Regions from separate parts of the Homo sapiens genome. Here region 1 is linked to region 2. Evidence: fine-mapped expression QTL. Tissue or cell type: tibial artery. Region 2 holds a variant in brackets; the other region holds the start of a gene. All regions are shown on one strand. Distances are from middle to middle.

The links. PIP is the estimated chance that this variant, and not a neighbour inherited with it, causes the effect.
Region 1: it holds the start of ATP2A2, and the variant in region 2 is fine-mapped to the expression of ATP2A2 in tibial artery (GTEx, PIP 0.91).

Annotation. Positions count from the first base shown.
Region 1 is chr12:110,278,018-110,286,109 of GRCh38, forward strand. ATP2A2 (ATPase sarcoplasmic/endoplasmic reticulum Ca2+ transporting 2) reads left to right here and starts at 3,230. Exons shown (of 20, transcript NM_170665.4): 1 at 3,230-3,890; 2 at 4,587-4,604; 3 at 4,696-4,778. The coding sequence starts at 3,773. RefSeq lists enhancers at 2,738-2,807, 3,925-4,679 and silencers at 2,898-3,497, 3,588-4,097.
Region 2 is chr12:109,792,942-109,801,033 of GRCh38, forward strand. TRPV4 (transient receptor potential cation channel subfamily V member 4) reads right to left here. Exons shown (of 16, transcript NM_021625.5): 5 at 7,677-7,817; 6 at 5,673-5,971; 7 at 3,584-3,763; 8 at 1,388-1,546; 9 at 989-1,081; 10 at 586-659. Among named protein-coding and RNA genes, the nearest start is that of FAM222A-AS1, 24 kb to the left of the region's middle. The variant G/A (reference allele first, on the strand shown) is at 3,773.

The DNA of each region.
Region 1 (8,092 bases), 490 kb after region 2:
AAGCAAGTACAACACGATGCATAAAATAAATTAAGCACAAGTTTATTTCTACATGAGAGAAACTAGATATTTCTGCCTTTGGGAGACTGCGTTTCTGATAAATTTTGGCAACCCATCAACAACAGCTTTCAGAGACACCAGCAGGTTGAGGAACCAAGAGCATAATTGTTATGATGATGTCTAAGGGGGCCAATTCTGGGCTTAAAATCACACTGTTTCAGCTTAAGAGAGTATTCCAGCCTCCAGTAAATAGAAAGCTTGCAGAGAACAGTCTAGGAGGGCAATGGCAACGTGGTAACAGTACCAATGTGAACTTGAACCTTCCTTCTTTCTGAGAAACCTGTAATGCTGTCTAGCTTTGTTTTTGTCTGTTTGTTTTAAACTGACTACACTTCACAGTCATTCTCATGAGGCAGGTAGTTCAGAGAGGCCCTCTAGTTTATTTCACAAATTGGAAATCAATGAACTTGAGTTCACTGAAAATTTGCTGAGGCCTTCCTATGGGGGAGGCCCTTTGCAAGTCACTTATGGGCTAGGGATGGTGGGACTAATTCATTCATTCAAACAGCAGGCATTTAATAAATGAGGAGCATAGACTAGGGACTGTTCTTTGTACTGAGGATGGACAAGATGGACAGGCCCTGTTCTTATGGAGCTTCTGTCCTAGAGCTCCATGAGACACTAGGAGACAAGCAGTTAACAGCTAAACCAAAATACAACATCACAAGTAAGCACTGTGAAGAAAACTGACCGGGCACGGTGGCTCATGCCTGTAATCCCAGCACTTTGGGAGGCCGAGGCAGGCAGATTACCTGAGGTCAGTTCGAAGCCAGCCTGGCCAACATGGTGAAACCCCATCTCTACTAAAAATACAAAAATGAGGCAGGCATGGTGGCGTGCACCTGTAGTCCCAGCTACTTGGGAGGCGGAGGCACAAGAACTGCTTGAACCCAGGAGGCCGAGGTTGTGGTGAGCTGGGATTGTGCTGCTGTCCTCCAGCCTGGGTGACAGAGAGAGACTCTGTCTCAAAGGAAAAAAAAGAAGAAAAGAAAACTGAAAAATGTGATGGAAGGTGAATTGCCGAGAGTAGCCACTTTTTAATTTATTTATTATTTAATTTTTTTTTTGAGACAAGGTCTCACTCTGTTGTTGCTCAGGCTGGAGTGCAGTGGCGTGATCACAGATCACTGCAGTCTTGACCTCCTGGGTTCAAGCGATCCTCTCTCTTTAGCCTCCTGAGTAGCTGGGACTAAAGGTTCAGGCCACCACGCCCAGCTAATTTTTTTCTTTTTTTTTTTTAGTAGAGATGGAGTCTCGCTATATTGCCCAGGCTGGTCTCAAACTCCTGGGCTCAAGGGATCCTCCTGCCTCAGCCTCCCAAAATGCTGGGATTACAGACGTGAGCCACTGTGGCTGGGTAGCCACTTTAGACAGCAAAGACATCTCTGAGGAGGGGACATGTAAGCTGCGATCTGAATGGAAAGAGAACGACACAAGTGAAGAAGATCTGTGGGAAGAGCATTCCATACAAAGGCTGAGGTCAGGAACTCCTCCAGAAGCTCATAATTGCACCAGAGGTGCTTACAACCCCAAGCAGTGACAGTGGCACAGAATATTCAACATCAAATGCCTAAGCTAATTTCCAGGCTGAGAAAGGTAAACCATCCTTCTCCTGCCTGCAGTGCTTCTATCGGTCCTGAAAGAGACAGAGGAGGTAAGGGAGAAGAATTGGTACGAAATGGTGCAGAGCTGGTCTCAGAGGGCAACAACAGCCAGCCCTCCATGACCACACTCCCACCGTGCACTCACGTGCCCCTCTTGAAGCGGCTCTGATCCTGTGACCTAACCAGTTTCCACCTGGCTTCTCTCAGTGCGTTGCCATATAGTATAATTTTTTGTTTGTTTGTTTCGTGTAGGGTTTTGTTGGTTCTTTTCCAAGTATCAATCAAAACTACATGCCAACGTCCACTCCTTGGAAATAATTAAATGACATGACGTGCCTGATTTTTTCAGCTGGTGATGCACTGTAATTTGCATCTGCTGAAGGAATTTATCTTAAGTCCTGAAGCCCAGCCACTTGAGACAACTGAGGTGATTTTTCTGCTCTGCTTTTGCTCATGCGGATGGTGCGTTATTGTTAAACACAAAAGTGGACTAATTGCTTCATTCTGCAACCTACTCCGTGAAGAAAGCTGCTCTTCTTTGTGAAGAGAATATGTTCATGTTTTGTTCATGAATTCCATGCAATTTCCCATCCCCTTGTTAAGTAATGTAGCTTCTTTATATTGGCAAAATTCCCTTTATCTTGCTGTGACCTGCGCTTTGTCCTCCCGAGCAGAGCAAATCATCTGTGGTTTAAGAGCAGCTTTGGATTCAAGTCCCCTTTTCTCCTGTCGAGGGAAGTGAGTCTATGAAATGGCCTTCATCTGAAAGCCACAGCGAAGCACCTCCTAGCCCAAGTCTAGCTGCTGTGTGGCAGCTCCAGCGGCGTGAACTGTGACTGCCCTGCAGACACCTATCAAGCGCTGCGTCAGCTATTAATAATAAAATCAACTCTTCTCCCTCCCCCCCGCGAGGGGGGTTCCCTCGTCAGGGCCCAGAACCCGCTGGGGAAGAATCGGGGCTGGCGTGCGAAGGAGCTGGCGGCAGGGGGTGTAGGATGCGGTGTTCCCGAGGCGACAGATGAAGGATTTGGGTTGTGTGGGAAGTGAACTGCGGAATTCCTCCCCTTGGTTTCTGAGGGGGGCTCTGAAGGAGCCAGATTAGGATGCAGAGCGCAGCCCGGGCGACCGAGGGCGAGGAGGCGAGCCAAGGACATCAGCCCGAGGGCGCCTCGAGACGCCCCGCGTGGACCGCGCTCCCAGCTCCTCGGCCTCGCCTTCCAACCATCCGCCCACCGGCCCCAGAGCAGCGTGCCCACTGTGAGCGCCCCACCCTGCGTCTGCAGGTGGGTGGGTCAGAGAACCGCAGGCACAGAAGAGGGTACCCAGCTTCCCCTCCGCCAGCCCCGCGACCGCGGCGCGCGCGGCCTCGATCCGGGTTCCTAGGGGCGGCGCGCGGGAGGGGGCGGGGCCTGCGCGGCAGCGTGGGCGCCAGGCGCGCGGGAGGAGGGAGCCGGGAGGAGGGGGCGGGGCCGCGCCGCCCGCGCCGCGCTGGGCGCTCTCGGCCAATGAGCGGCGTCCACATGCCGCGGCGGCGGCGAAAGGGGAGGCAGCGGCCGATAAATGCTATTAGAGCAGCCGCCGCGGAGCCGTCCCCGACGCCACCTCCTTTTCCTTCGCCGCAGTTTCCTCCGCCGCTGTCGGGCGTGCGGCGCTGAGGGACCCGGGCGAGCGCGCCGCGCACCGCCCCGCCGGCTCGCCTCCCTCGCCGCGTTCCGCCCTCAGTGGTCTGCCGGGCGCCCCCTCCTCCGGCCCGGGCGGGGCCTCTGATCGCCTCAAGAGAGCGGGGAGGGGGCTCGGGGGCCGCGGCCTGCCCTCCCGGCGGGCGGCTGAGGGCGAGGGAGGCCCTCCCTTCTGGCGAGGGGAGGGAGGGTGGGTCAGGAGCCCCCAACCCGCCCTGCGGAGCTCGGGGCCGCGCGAGGGGCGGTTGTCTGGGGGAGGGGGCGCGGGGTGATTCAGCGCCCGGCGAGGCGGAAGCGGCCGCAAGAGGAGGAGGGGAGAGCCCGTCCGCGCCTGGGCTCCCGGGGTGGCACGAGCCCGCGGCCGGAGTGCGAGGCGGAGGCGAGGAGGCCGCGGGGACGGGAGGCGAGGCCGGCCGGGCCCCCGAAGCCATGGAGAACGCGCACACCAAGACGGTGGAGGAGGTGCTGGGCCACTTCGGCGTCAACGAGAGTACGGGGCTGAGCCTGGAACAGGTCAAGAAGCTTAAGGAGAGATGGGGCTCCAACGGTAGGTGCAGGGCGCTCCGCTGCAGGGGCCCGGCGCGGCCGGGAGAGCCAGGGAAGATGGCTGACCGGGCTCCACCTCGTGGGCTTCGGCTCCGCGCCCGCCGACAGCTGCGGGCGGAGGGTCGGGCCAGCGCGCCGGCCCCGCGGGAGAGAAAGGGGCTGCGGTCCTCGCCTCGCCTTCCCTGGACCTCTTCGCTTCTCGGGCCCTCGACCTTTTCGGCGCGCAAGGCTCGGAGGCTTCTCTCCAGCAGCAGCCGGCCCCGGTGGAGGGAGGGACGTGGCTTCTGCAGCTAGGTTGAGCCCGGCAAGACGTTTTCTCGTCCCCTGCCGATTTATGAGGAGTCGAGGTCGTTGGAAGGCCTCTGACCGTTCTTGTCCTACCCAAAGTTACACATCTGGCAGAAGTGATGACATCGCTGAAACCACTCCTAGGTTCAGGAGCCCGAAGTGATTTCACGCTTAGGGCTAGACCTCAGGCCATTGATTACAAAGAGTGCATGCTTCCTTGAGATATCTTCGTGGTATGCCCTCTGCTAAAAAAATCGGATATTCTTATAGCTAGGTCTGTGTTTTAAAGATATTGATGCTTAGAATTGTAGCAGTTCTTTTTAGAAAAACGAAGTGCTAAAATGTCTCTCTCTTTTTTTTTTTAACCTCCCTCTTGACACATTGCTTGACGAATTTCTACATTCTACAGAGTTACCGGCTGAAGAAGGTAATCTTAACATGCTGTTTCTGTTTTTTTTCCTCTGTTGGTGTGCTGATGGTAAGATGACAGTTAAAACACATGTGTTTGTTTCTTACAGGAAAAACCTTGCTGGAACTTGTGATTGAGCAGTTTGAAGACTTGCTAGTTAGGATTTTATTACTGGCAGCATGTATATCTTTTGTAAGTATAAAAAAATTTATTTTCTTTCCCCCCAAAAGCTGAAAGTATTCCATAGATAAATCAGAAAACAAATGATGTCCATTGGGTGAAAACATATTTGGAGTTGCAAGCTGTGTCTCTATGTTTAAAAACAATCTGGGCATTTTAAAATTACAAAACAAAACACTTGAAGCCATTGGTATTCAGAAAATAGATGCCTGACATTTACAGTGTGGTTAGGAGTTGTCCCAGAGTGTGGCATGGTCTTAGAAATTCTTGTGGTTTATCAGCTTTTAATATCAAAAAGTTCTTTTCTGGGAAGCCTTTAATGTTTTGGGTTCTTCCATTGTTATCGTGTTGTAAGATCATACTAAGATGATGTTGGACTCTTTGTAGTCTGTAAATAGAACTTACAAAAGGAATATTCCAGTTGCTTTCCCTTCCTGGTAATGGCAAGGTGACAGTTGTTCCTGACGGTGACAAGAATGATGACGGCTGTGATGGCACCCTTGTTGACCAAATTTGGTCACTGACCTTTAGGGTGGTATATTTATCTAAATTGGACCCCTGTCTTAAGTGATTCTTAGGTTGAAAGAACAAGGTTTAGTACAGTTGGTTCTAGATCTTAAAGGAAAAAAACCAGCATGGTGTTTTTTCTTGTTCTGTGTGTGCTTACCCACTTGAGTGCTATATGGTTGCTAAGAAACTAGTGAAATGCAAAGAACTACAGCAGAAAAAGGGTGTTGGGGTGGCAAGTATATTTCTAGGTTTTTAACTTTTTTTTAAATGTTCGGTATTAATTTTTTGTTGCATTTTTTTTCTTGGGCAGTAGATTGCTTGCTAGTTTTCCTAAAAATGGTCAGGAATAGGACACAGATGTTCCTAATTCTAATAGCATGAGATGCCTTTTATTCTTGAATTACGTTATTCTTACAAAAACCACGATAAGTGAAATTCACCCAGTGCAGTACTTCTTTCTAGTTAAAACAAAATTGACAAAACTTCACGGTTTCAGTTCTTGTACATATATGTATGCAGGTCCCAGGGATCAGCCTCAGTCTTTGTGAGAACCATACCATAGAGGGCTATTTTGAGAACGAAATAAACAAAGCAGTGGGCATTTATTTAGTTCAGATGAGGAAAAGATTAAATTTATACCCATCTTTTAAGTAGATAGTGGCAGCAGTAAATAAATTTGTGGAATAATTTTTACATAAATCCTGCTATGATACTTTATTATGCCATATTAGCCAAGTATTGTGTAGCCATTAATAATTCAGTCCCCAAGAACCTTTTCTGTGGTTTTCATTGATTAAAATGGGGACTTACATAGCAAACCATTCAGCATTCTGAGTCAGTCACAATGTACCTCTGATAAAATGTTTCTTCTTGATTGATTAAAAAATTTTCCCCCAGAAAATGGCTGCTGTTTTACCAATTAAGGGAAATGAGTAGACCCGATTAACTATAGTTTATCAATACATTGTCATGGGGCAAAATAAATGATACATTTGGAGCTAGTGTAAGATTTGTATTTAACTGGGTACATAATAGCGTTGGCAGTTAAATAATGGGGTCCGATAAGGTCATTGGGAACTTCTTAAAAATTAATCAGCTGACTACAAGCCAGAAGCAAAATACATTTTTACTGAATTCTCTGTGTTACAAGTTGAAGCAGTGTGGGAAACCATGCCACTGGTGTTACTATTGGGGTTGCACTGGGTCTGTTTTTTGAGTGGCCAGTTTGAGTGACTTTATATTAGCATTTTAAATTAATGATGTGTGTGGGTTTTGTTTGTTCATTTTTTACTTTGAAGTAATTAGAGGCTTATAGTTTGTAAGCATTTCAAGCAGGTTTTTAAATAAATGCTTTAATTTTTTTTATAAGATAGGACCTTGGCTTTGTGGAGCATTATAGAGCTATATTTTGGAGTTGAAATTTGAGCTCCTTTTTGGTAACTGTGGAGTTACTGCTCAGGAAATGAACTGTGTTACATTTTTATTTTATGAGTTGGTAAATAGCAAAAGAATAAGTGTTTAGGGAGTACTTCTATAGAATTAATTTGCTTTGGTTTGTTTGATCAAGGAATTGCAGATATAAGACCTGTTGTGTTGATTTTCTTCATGTGGGGTTGGGTACTGCTGCTGCATTGTCTTTAGTGTTTCATTCCTCCTGTCTGTATCTTTTAAAAGAAAGAGCACTGACTCTCTTTTTGTGTCAGTTTATTCCTATTGATGTAACAGAAAAAACATGGTAGAATATTCAGGTTTTTTTGGAGAAGTGACTAGGCGATTCTTATATACATCATGCGTCATCAAGTCATGCTTAAATTAAAAAGAATATTAGTGACTTACTTCAAATATCAAACTAAGTAGTAAACTGTTAACTATAGTTAATATTTTGCTGTGGCATAGAATAGGAAGCTATGCTTGTGACCTGTAGGGATCTAGTTTAATTTGTAATATTGGCCAAAGTGTTTTTTTGAAACGGTCACTTGGATTGAAAGAAATAAGCTTCATCTTCCAGTGCATATGAACATTAGAAATTGCTTAATTTGACACTGAAGACCCCCCCTCTATCATTCACTTTATCTTTTCATTCTCTTCTTGATTACCAACTTTGTTCTAAATGTAACACATCGTATGGTTGCTTAACTGATGCCTGCCCTTTCTTCTCTTTTCCTGCTTTGTTAAGATATTTATTGAGCACCTGTCACAGACACTGGGGATACAGTAGTGAATAAAACAGACAGAGACCCTTACCTGGAGGATAATACTGCTGAGAAAAATAAAGCAAGGGGGTTTGGATATCAGAGTATGTGAAAGGGGGAACAGTTTTCAAATTGGGTGGTCCGGAAAGTTCTTGAGGAAGGTGACATTTGCGAAAAGATCTGAAGGAGGTGGGCATTAGGGCCATGTTGGTCTCCCATCTGTCTAAATCATAAAGTCATAATTAATATGGTAATAATTTGCATAGGTTTCTCTACCTTCCACCGTCGTTTCCCATGTCAGCTACTTAGATTGACCCTAAAATGCTAATAAAACTTTCTAGACTGTGGTACTTCTCAACCTTTAGGTTACATTTGACCATTTGCATGTGTGTGTCTCTTTTCTTCCTACTAGACCCCCTTGAGTTAGTGCTTTTTTTTTTTTTTTTTTTTAAATGTAGATGGAGTCTCACTCTTGTTGCCCGGGCTGGAGCGCAGTGGTGCAATCTCGGCTCACTGCAACCTCCACCTCCTGGGTTCAAGTGATTCTCCTGCCTCAGCCTCCTGAGTAGCTGGGATTACAGATGTCCACCACCACGCCCGGCTAATTTTTGTATTTTTAGTAGA
Region 2 (8,092 bases):
GAAAAGAAACAAAGTGGATTAGCAGGGTTCCCCAGCATTCTGTTAACAAGAACATTCAATTAGCTGGCAATTAATCCTGAGGTCCCACAGGATCCTGAAGTGATGCCCCTTGGAATTGCTAAAGAAAGATTTAGTGGTGTTCAGTGGAGATTTTGTGGCTAAGTGAATTTCATCATTCTCCAACTCTAAGGGAAATGTGAAAGAGGTAACACACACTCAGTAACTCTCTCATTCTCTGTCCCAGGCAGACATCATTAATCAATCCCAACTCTTTCCCACTAAACACAGACACAGGTGCAAAATTCTTAACATGGCACTTCAGGCAGACATTAGCAATCATTCACCAGCATAAGAGGTTAAAATTATTTCTATCCATGTTGTATATGATAACTCCCTAGCAATCAGAATTTTTCTTGAACCAGAAGACCCTATTGTTTGTGGCTTTGTCCTGACTTTGGGTTAGAGCTGCCCAGGTTGGGTGCATTCATTTCTAACAGAATCACCTCTCTCCTGAATCTGGACGACCTAGCAGCCCAAACCCACCTTCCTCACCCAGAAGCTGCCGGCCCAGGGACCTCTACTCACTAGAGCAGCTGGAAGGAGCCATCAATGAAGAGAGAATTCACTCCAGGGCATTTCTTCATGAACAAGTCTTTGATCTGGAAGACAGGAGGGGGCACGTGAAAGGGGTGGGGCCAGCAGGAGAGGAGAGGAGGAGAGAGGAGACAGAGAAAGGGATAGAAGAGAGGGAGGCAGAGGCTGGTACAGAGAAAAGACAAAGGACTCTTTCCTGTTAGAAAAGGAGAAAAAAGCAGAGATGGAGAACGTGGGATTGGAGGAGGTAGAAGAGAAATGGGAAAATAAAAGGAGGAAGGAAAGGAGAAGGACCATTTGGAGGAGAGAGAAGAGAAAAAGAGGGAGAGAAAAGAGGTGCAGGAAGAGAAGAGGAGGGCAGGCAGGGTGGGGGGCACGGGGGCCAGGCACTTACGTTGGTGAAGAAGAACAGGACCCCAGTGAAGAGCGTAATGACCTCGCCAGCCAGCCGCAGGTAGTCCACCGTGGTGCGGTAAGGGTACGGCGGCTGGGGAGCAGCAAGGGCACACAGGTCGTCACCCAGCCCCTCCAACATCTGGCCCCCAATCCAGATGTTCCCCCAGGCCCGAAACATCGGCATCCCATGGAGCCTCCTCCTTCACTCTCTTCCTCCTGAGTCTTCCTCCTCCCAGCTCAGGGCCACCCGTGGATGCTGGAGGGCGCCTCCCCAACCTGTTCCTAAACCTTCTCCGGGTCCCCCTACAGGGGACCCAGAAGGATGAGGTTGTGCCCCAGTCCTGCATGGCTCAGCCCAGTGCCTGCCCCAGCCCCTGCCCGGTCCCCGGGCACTCACTGTGCCCTCCAGCGGCTGGTAGTAGGCGGTGAGAGTGAAGATGACCATGGCACACAGGTAGGAGACCACGTTGATGTAGAAGGAGACGGCCCCGAACTTGCGCCACTTGTCCCGCAGCAGTTCATTGATGGGCTCCACAGCCAGCATCTCGTGGCGGTTCTAAGAGAGGCAGGGTGGTCGGGGGCTGCCTTCCTGAGATGGGTGGGGGGTCCAGGCAGGCTGCCTCGGGTGTGCCTTCCCCCACCCTCCACCCGGACAGCGCTTTCTCTTTCCATCCATTCCTCAGCTGCATTCACGGATTCATGAATGGATTCAGCTGCCCAATTCTGCCTCAATGTACCTTTCCACCCTATTCTAGCATCACAGAACTCGGAACTGGAAAGTCCCTTAAAAGACATTTATTTTCAGGCCGGCCGCAGTGGCTCATGCCTGTAATCCTAGCACTTTGGGAGGCCAAGACAGGCGGATCACCTAAGGTCAGCAGTTCAAGATCAGCCTGGCCAATGTGGTGAAACCCTGTCTCCACTAAAAACACAACAATTAGCCGGGCGTGGTGGTGCACACCTGTAATCCCAGCTACTCCTAAGGCTGAGGCAGGAGAATCACTTGAACCTGGGAGGCGGAGATTGCAGTGAGCCTAGATCGCACTACTGCACTCCAGCCTGGGCAACAAGAGTGAGACTCCATCTCAAAAAAGAAAAAAAGACATTTATTCTCATGGTTCCCAAACTCCAATCTGTGGATAGTACCAAGCTGCTGGCCGCAAAATAATTTATGTAACTTGCTGCAAGTATAAATCCTGGCCTCCGCTCTCAGAAATTCTGATTCAGAGAGAAAGATTGAGAAATTTTGCCCAAAGATGATAAATGATTGACTCACCACAATTCTCCAATTCTGAACCCAGGGCAGACATCAATAATTGAGCCCTGCACAATTGTATTCATACAGTTCCCTGGGTAGACACTACTAATCAATCAGTTTGCACCTGAGATGCTAAACCTCCTGCCACCACTAATTTAAATCAAGATGGTCACTAATTCAAAAAATGAGGGAAATGAGGTCTTGCAAGGAAGCCAAGCTCACAGACCAGTAAGCCACAGGGCAGGGCTAGAAGGAAGACCACCTGCACCCAGTCCCCAGCATTTTCTGCTCCATTTTTATAGCTTCCTAGCCCTTTATTAACTTGAGTTTCTCTATAATCATGATTTGTGCAATAAAGCAGCCACAGAGATGCTCTTATAGTGTTATTCCTGATAAAGGCAGAAACAAACCCAAGCGACCAGCAATAAGAGAACAGTTCATTTGAATATGGTATGTTTACATGCAGCGACAATATTACCAAAGAATATTTAAAAGTACAGAACGACGTTCACAAAATACTGCTAAGTAGGGAAAAAAAAGCTTGGTTTTTTGTTTGTTTGTTTGTTTGTTTATTTTGAGACAGGATCTCACTCTGTCACCCAGGCTGGAGTGCAGTGGCATGATCTCGGCTCACTGAAGCCTCGACCTCCCCAGGCTCAGGTGATCCTCCCACCTCGCCTCCCAAGTAGCTGGGACTACAGGCTCGCACCACCATGCCTAGCTAATTTTCATTTTTATTATTTTTTTTTGGTAGAGACGGGGTTTCGCCATATTGCCCAGGCTAGTCTCAAACTCCTGGCTTCAAGCAATCCGCCCACCTTGGCTCCCCAAAATGCTAGAATTACAGGCATAAGCCACCATGCCTGACCGAAAAAAAAGAGCTTTCAAAAGTTCATATAACAACCATGAGTAGTAAAAGCTGACATAATGTTTACTCTGTGCCAAGCCATTCTAAAATTAACCTCTTTGGTCCTCCCAAGAACCCCATGGGATATCCATGATCCTTATCCCCAGGTTACAAATGAAGAAGCTGAGACCCAGAGAGGTGGAGCCACTTGTCCTGAGACACACAGCATGTAAGTTACAGAGCCAGGATCCCAACCCAGTCCTACCTGCCCCAAAAGTCCATCTTCCCACAAGTCTTGCTCATTTCCTCACATGGCAGACACTGTTCTGGGCACTTAGTTGGCACCTTCTCTTGCATTCAGCCAACAGACCCACCACGTTGGGTCCTAGAGGCTGGGGCTGTCTCCCCCAGCCCAGCCCCAGGGCCCTGTCCCTACTCCCAGCCCTGCCCCTCCTTCCTCACACCCCATGCCCCCTCCTGGAGCCCACCTCAATCTTGCTGTTGTACACCAGGATCTCCAGCACGGAGGCCTCTTCCCCACACGTGTCCAGGGAGGAGAGGTCATAAAGCGAGGAATACACTGGCCCATAGGCCCAGTCCTTGAACTTGCGGGACAGGTGCCGTGTGTCCTCATCCGTCACCTCCCGCCGGATGATGTGCTGAAAGATCTGCACAGG[G/A]GGCCAGGAGGGTCAGGGGGCTCACACTGGAAAGACCCCCAGGGCTGGGCCCAGCTCAGCACATGACGCCTCCCCAGAAAACAGCTAAGCACCGGCTGCTGGAGGACCCTTTCCTCATCTTGTTTAATTCTTGCTCTTATTATCTTGGTTTACAGATAAAGAATGGAGGCTGGGAAAAACGAAGGGTGTTCCAGAAGCCACTTAACCAGTCAGCTGGAGCCAGACAGAACCTGGATGAGCCTTCAACATCTTAATTGTAATGAATATCTTCTTCATGCCGTTAAAATAGCAATGAATCCATCTTAATGACATGTGAATTATAATACTGACGATCACATGCGGTCCTTCCTGTTACCACTCCTCCTTCCCTGGCTTACACACAGGGAAGCGGAGGCACAGAGAGGGGTGGGAATTGCCCAAGGTCAGGCAATGTTAGGATTTTGGGGTTTTTGTTTTGAGACAGAGTCTCTCTCTGTCACCCAGGCTGGAGTGCAGTGGCGCGATCTCAGCACACTGCAACCCTCTCCTCCTAGGTTCAAGCAATTCTCCTGCCTCAGCCTCCTGAGTAGCTGGGATTACAGGTGCCCACTATCACACCCAGCTAATATTTTTGTATTTTTAGTAGAGACGGGGTTTCACCATGTTGGCCAGGCTGGTCTTGAACTCCTGACCTCAGGTGATCCGCCCACCTCGGCCTCCCAAAGTGCTGGGATTACAGGCATGAGCCACTGTGCACAGCCAGGATTTTGGGGTTTTTTGAGACAGGGTCTGGCTCTGTTGCCCAGGCTGGAGTGCAATGGCACTATCACAGCTCATTGCAGCCTCAACCTCCTGGGCTCAAGTGCTCCTCCCACCTCAGCCTCCCAAAGTGCTAGGATTACAGACACGAGCCACTGAGCCTAGCCAAAGCCAGGATTTAAACTGGAGCCTTTCTACTGCCTCAGGGCCATGGTATAATTGCAATTTTAGTAATTTTTGCTACATTTTTTTTTATTTTGGTTTTTATTTATTTGGGATCTCAAATAATCCAGGCTGGACTTAAACGATCCTCTCACCTCAGCCTCCCAACTAGCTGGCATTACAGACATGTAAGTGACACTTACTGCTTCTCCCAGGCTCCTTCCTAAGAGCCTTATGTGGATCACCGCATTTGTCACAACACCACACCAGAGGACACTCTTATATCCCCATTTTACAGACAAGGAAACTGAGGCACAGAAAAGGGAAATGAGATGTCTGAGGTCACACACTGGGAAGTGGTAGCGCCAGGGCTTGGACAGGTGCTCCTGCCTCTAGCATACTCCAGACTTGGTTCCCAATCCAGCGATGGTGCCCCCCAGAGGACAATTCAGCAATGTTCTGGAGATATTTTTGGTGGTCACAAGTGTAAGGGGAGGTGTTCCTGGCATCTGGTGGGTAGAGGCCCGGGATGCAGATCAATGTCTGGCAATAGCACAAGACGGTCCCCACCACAAAGAGCCTGCCGCCCAAAATAATCATGCTGAAGTTGAGAAACCCTTCTCCAGGCCCCATGCTGCGCGGCCCAGAAAAGGGAAGGAACTGGGGCAGGGCCATTCAACAGGTTTGAGGCTGGGAGCACCGCTGGGCTAGGGCCCGGGGACTCAGTTTCTTATCAGTGGCTCATCCTGGCTGGTGGGGGTGGAGTGGTGAACATCCAGTAGGGTGACATGAGGCGAGAGGCTCGGGGATGAAGCTAAGGAGCTTGGCTGGACACTAGGGAGCCATAGCAGGTTCTTGAGCTGGGACATCTGCACACTGGGGTTGGCATGTTGGGAGGTGCATGCACGTATTAATAATGAATACCAGCAGCAGACCCTCGTGTGTGTGTGCAGAGGGGTACGAGTAGGTGGATCAGCTGTGCCCCCAGCCGCACACTCACCCCAATCTTGCCCGTCTTGGCAGCCATCATGAGGGGCGAGAGGCCGTCGTTGTTGAGCACGGCCTCCAGGTTGCTGTCGGGGAAGAGGCGGGCACACTTGAGCAGCAGCAGGTCGTACATCTTGGTAACAAACTTGGTGTTCTCACGGGTGTTGTCAGCAATGGCCACCAGCGCATGCAGCACTGTGTTGCCTCGCGAGTCCTGGCGCCGCATGTCCGCCTTCTTGTGGGGGTTCTCCGTCAGGTAGTTGACAATGTGGGGCTGGTTGGTGCAGGCAGCCAGCGACAGGGGCAGCTCCCCTGCGGGCCAGGGTGAAGGGTGGGAGGTCAGCGAAGGGGGCCCAGGGTGGGACTCTGCCTGCAGACACTCGGGGGACGGACACCGTGGCGCTCTGAGGATAATGACGGAGACAGCACCAGCAGTGGATATGAACTGCACGTTTCTCTGGGTGATGCCAGGGAGATGGGGTGTGGCTAGTTAAGGGCACAGCCACGCGATTTGGAGGCTGTGAGGGACTGGACACATCCAATGATGGAATTCTTTTTTTTTTTTTTTTTGAGACAAAGTCTCACTCTGTCGCCTAGGCTGGAGTGCAGTGGCACAATCTCGGCTCATTGCAACCTCCACCTCCCGGGTGCAAGCAGTTCTTGTGCCTCAGCCGAGTAGCTGGGATTACAGGCGCACGCCACCACACCTGGCTAATTTTTGTATTTTTAGTAGAGGCAGGATTTCGCCATGTTGGCCAGGCTGGTCTCAAACTCCTGACCTCAAGTGATCCGCCGACCTCGGCCTCCCAAAGTGCTGGGATTACAGGCGTGAGCCACCGCGCCCAGCTGATGATGGAATTCTTTGTGTGACTTTGTCCCTGAGCTGCACATAATGAATGCCTTTAAGCAGGGGCAAAATTCAAAATATTTCATGAGTCCAGTGATGACAACGGCAGTGGTGGGCTTTGGGCCTGGTGATGGGGCTGTTGGTCCCAGCATAAACCAGATTAAAGCACACAGACAATACAGAGCTGGGCGCTGACATCACAGCCCAAGGGCCTCTCGTGATCCCCACTGCACAGCTGGGGAAGGTGAGGCTCAGGGAAGTGAGGTCACATGCCTGGAAAGTGCAGAGTGAGGATTTGGCTTTTTTTTTGTTCTTTTCTTTTTGCTTTTTAAAGACGGGGTCTTGCTCTATTTTCCAGGCTGGAGTGCAGTGGTGCAATCATGGCTTACTGCAGCCTCGAACTCCTAGGTTCAAGTGATCCTCCAGCCTCGGCCTCCCAAGCAGCTGGGACTTCAAGCACATGCCACCATGCCATCTAACTTATTTATTTATTTATTTATTTATTTATTTTTTGAGACAGAGTCTCACTCTGTCACCCAAGCTGGAGTGCAATGGGGAAATCTCGGCTCATTGCAACCTCTGTCCCCCAGGTTCAAGCAATTCTCCTGCCTCAGCCTCCCAAGTAGCTGGGATTACAGGCACCCACCACCATGCCCGGCTAATTTTTGTTATTTTTGTAGAGATGGGTTTCACCATCTTGTTGGCCAGGCTGGTCTTGAACTCTTGACCTCAGGTGATCCACCTGCCTCATCCTCCCAAAGTGCTGGGATTACAGGCATGAGCCACCGTGCCCAGCCATTTTTTAAATGTTTAAAAGAGACAGGGTATTGCTATGTTGCCTAGGCTGGTCTCAAACTCCTGCCCTCAAGCGATCCTCCTGCCTTGACCTCCCAAAGTGCTGGGATGACAGGTGTGAGACACCGTGCCTGGCTGGAGTGAGGATCTGAATCCAGGTCCATGGTACTCCCCATGGCACTTACACCTCAGAGGCAACGGCCCTGTGACCAAGACCAACGTGCAGCCTGTGGTCCAGAGTGCTGCCTGCGCTCATGGCCAGAGTGGCCCTGGGTGTCTGGGTGATGGTCAGGGCTGCAGACACCAACCAGTATCATGCTATCTCCCGCCATGCTTCTCCAGCATGCTGTCAGCCCCCACCAGGCCCCTCCTTACCAAAGTAGAAGTAGCCCCCCTCATCCTTGGGCTGGAAGAAGCGCCCACGGGCCTGGGCGTGGACATCAGCTCCCTGGGCCACGAGAAGTTCCACGTAGTGTTTGCAGCGACGCTCAATGGCGATGTGCAGGGCTGTCTGACCTGGGGGCAGGGGACGGTCATCCAGGGTCCTGGCGGAGCAGAGACCTAGCCAGGCTTGCTGGGGGTGGGGGTAGGGTGCAGGACGTAGAAATTGGGGGGTGGGGGATGCAGGCAGAGTCCTGCCCAGCGACACCCAAGGGCAGCAAATAGGTCCTTGGATATTCCCTGGGATCCATCGCAGAAGCAGAATCTCAAGCCTGAAGGATACCTAGTTTGTGGAATCCTGAATGTGAGAAGTTTTTAGATTCATAAGATGCTTTAAAAATCCTAGAGGA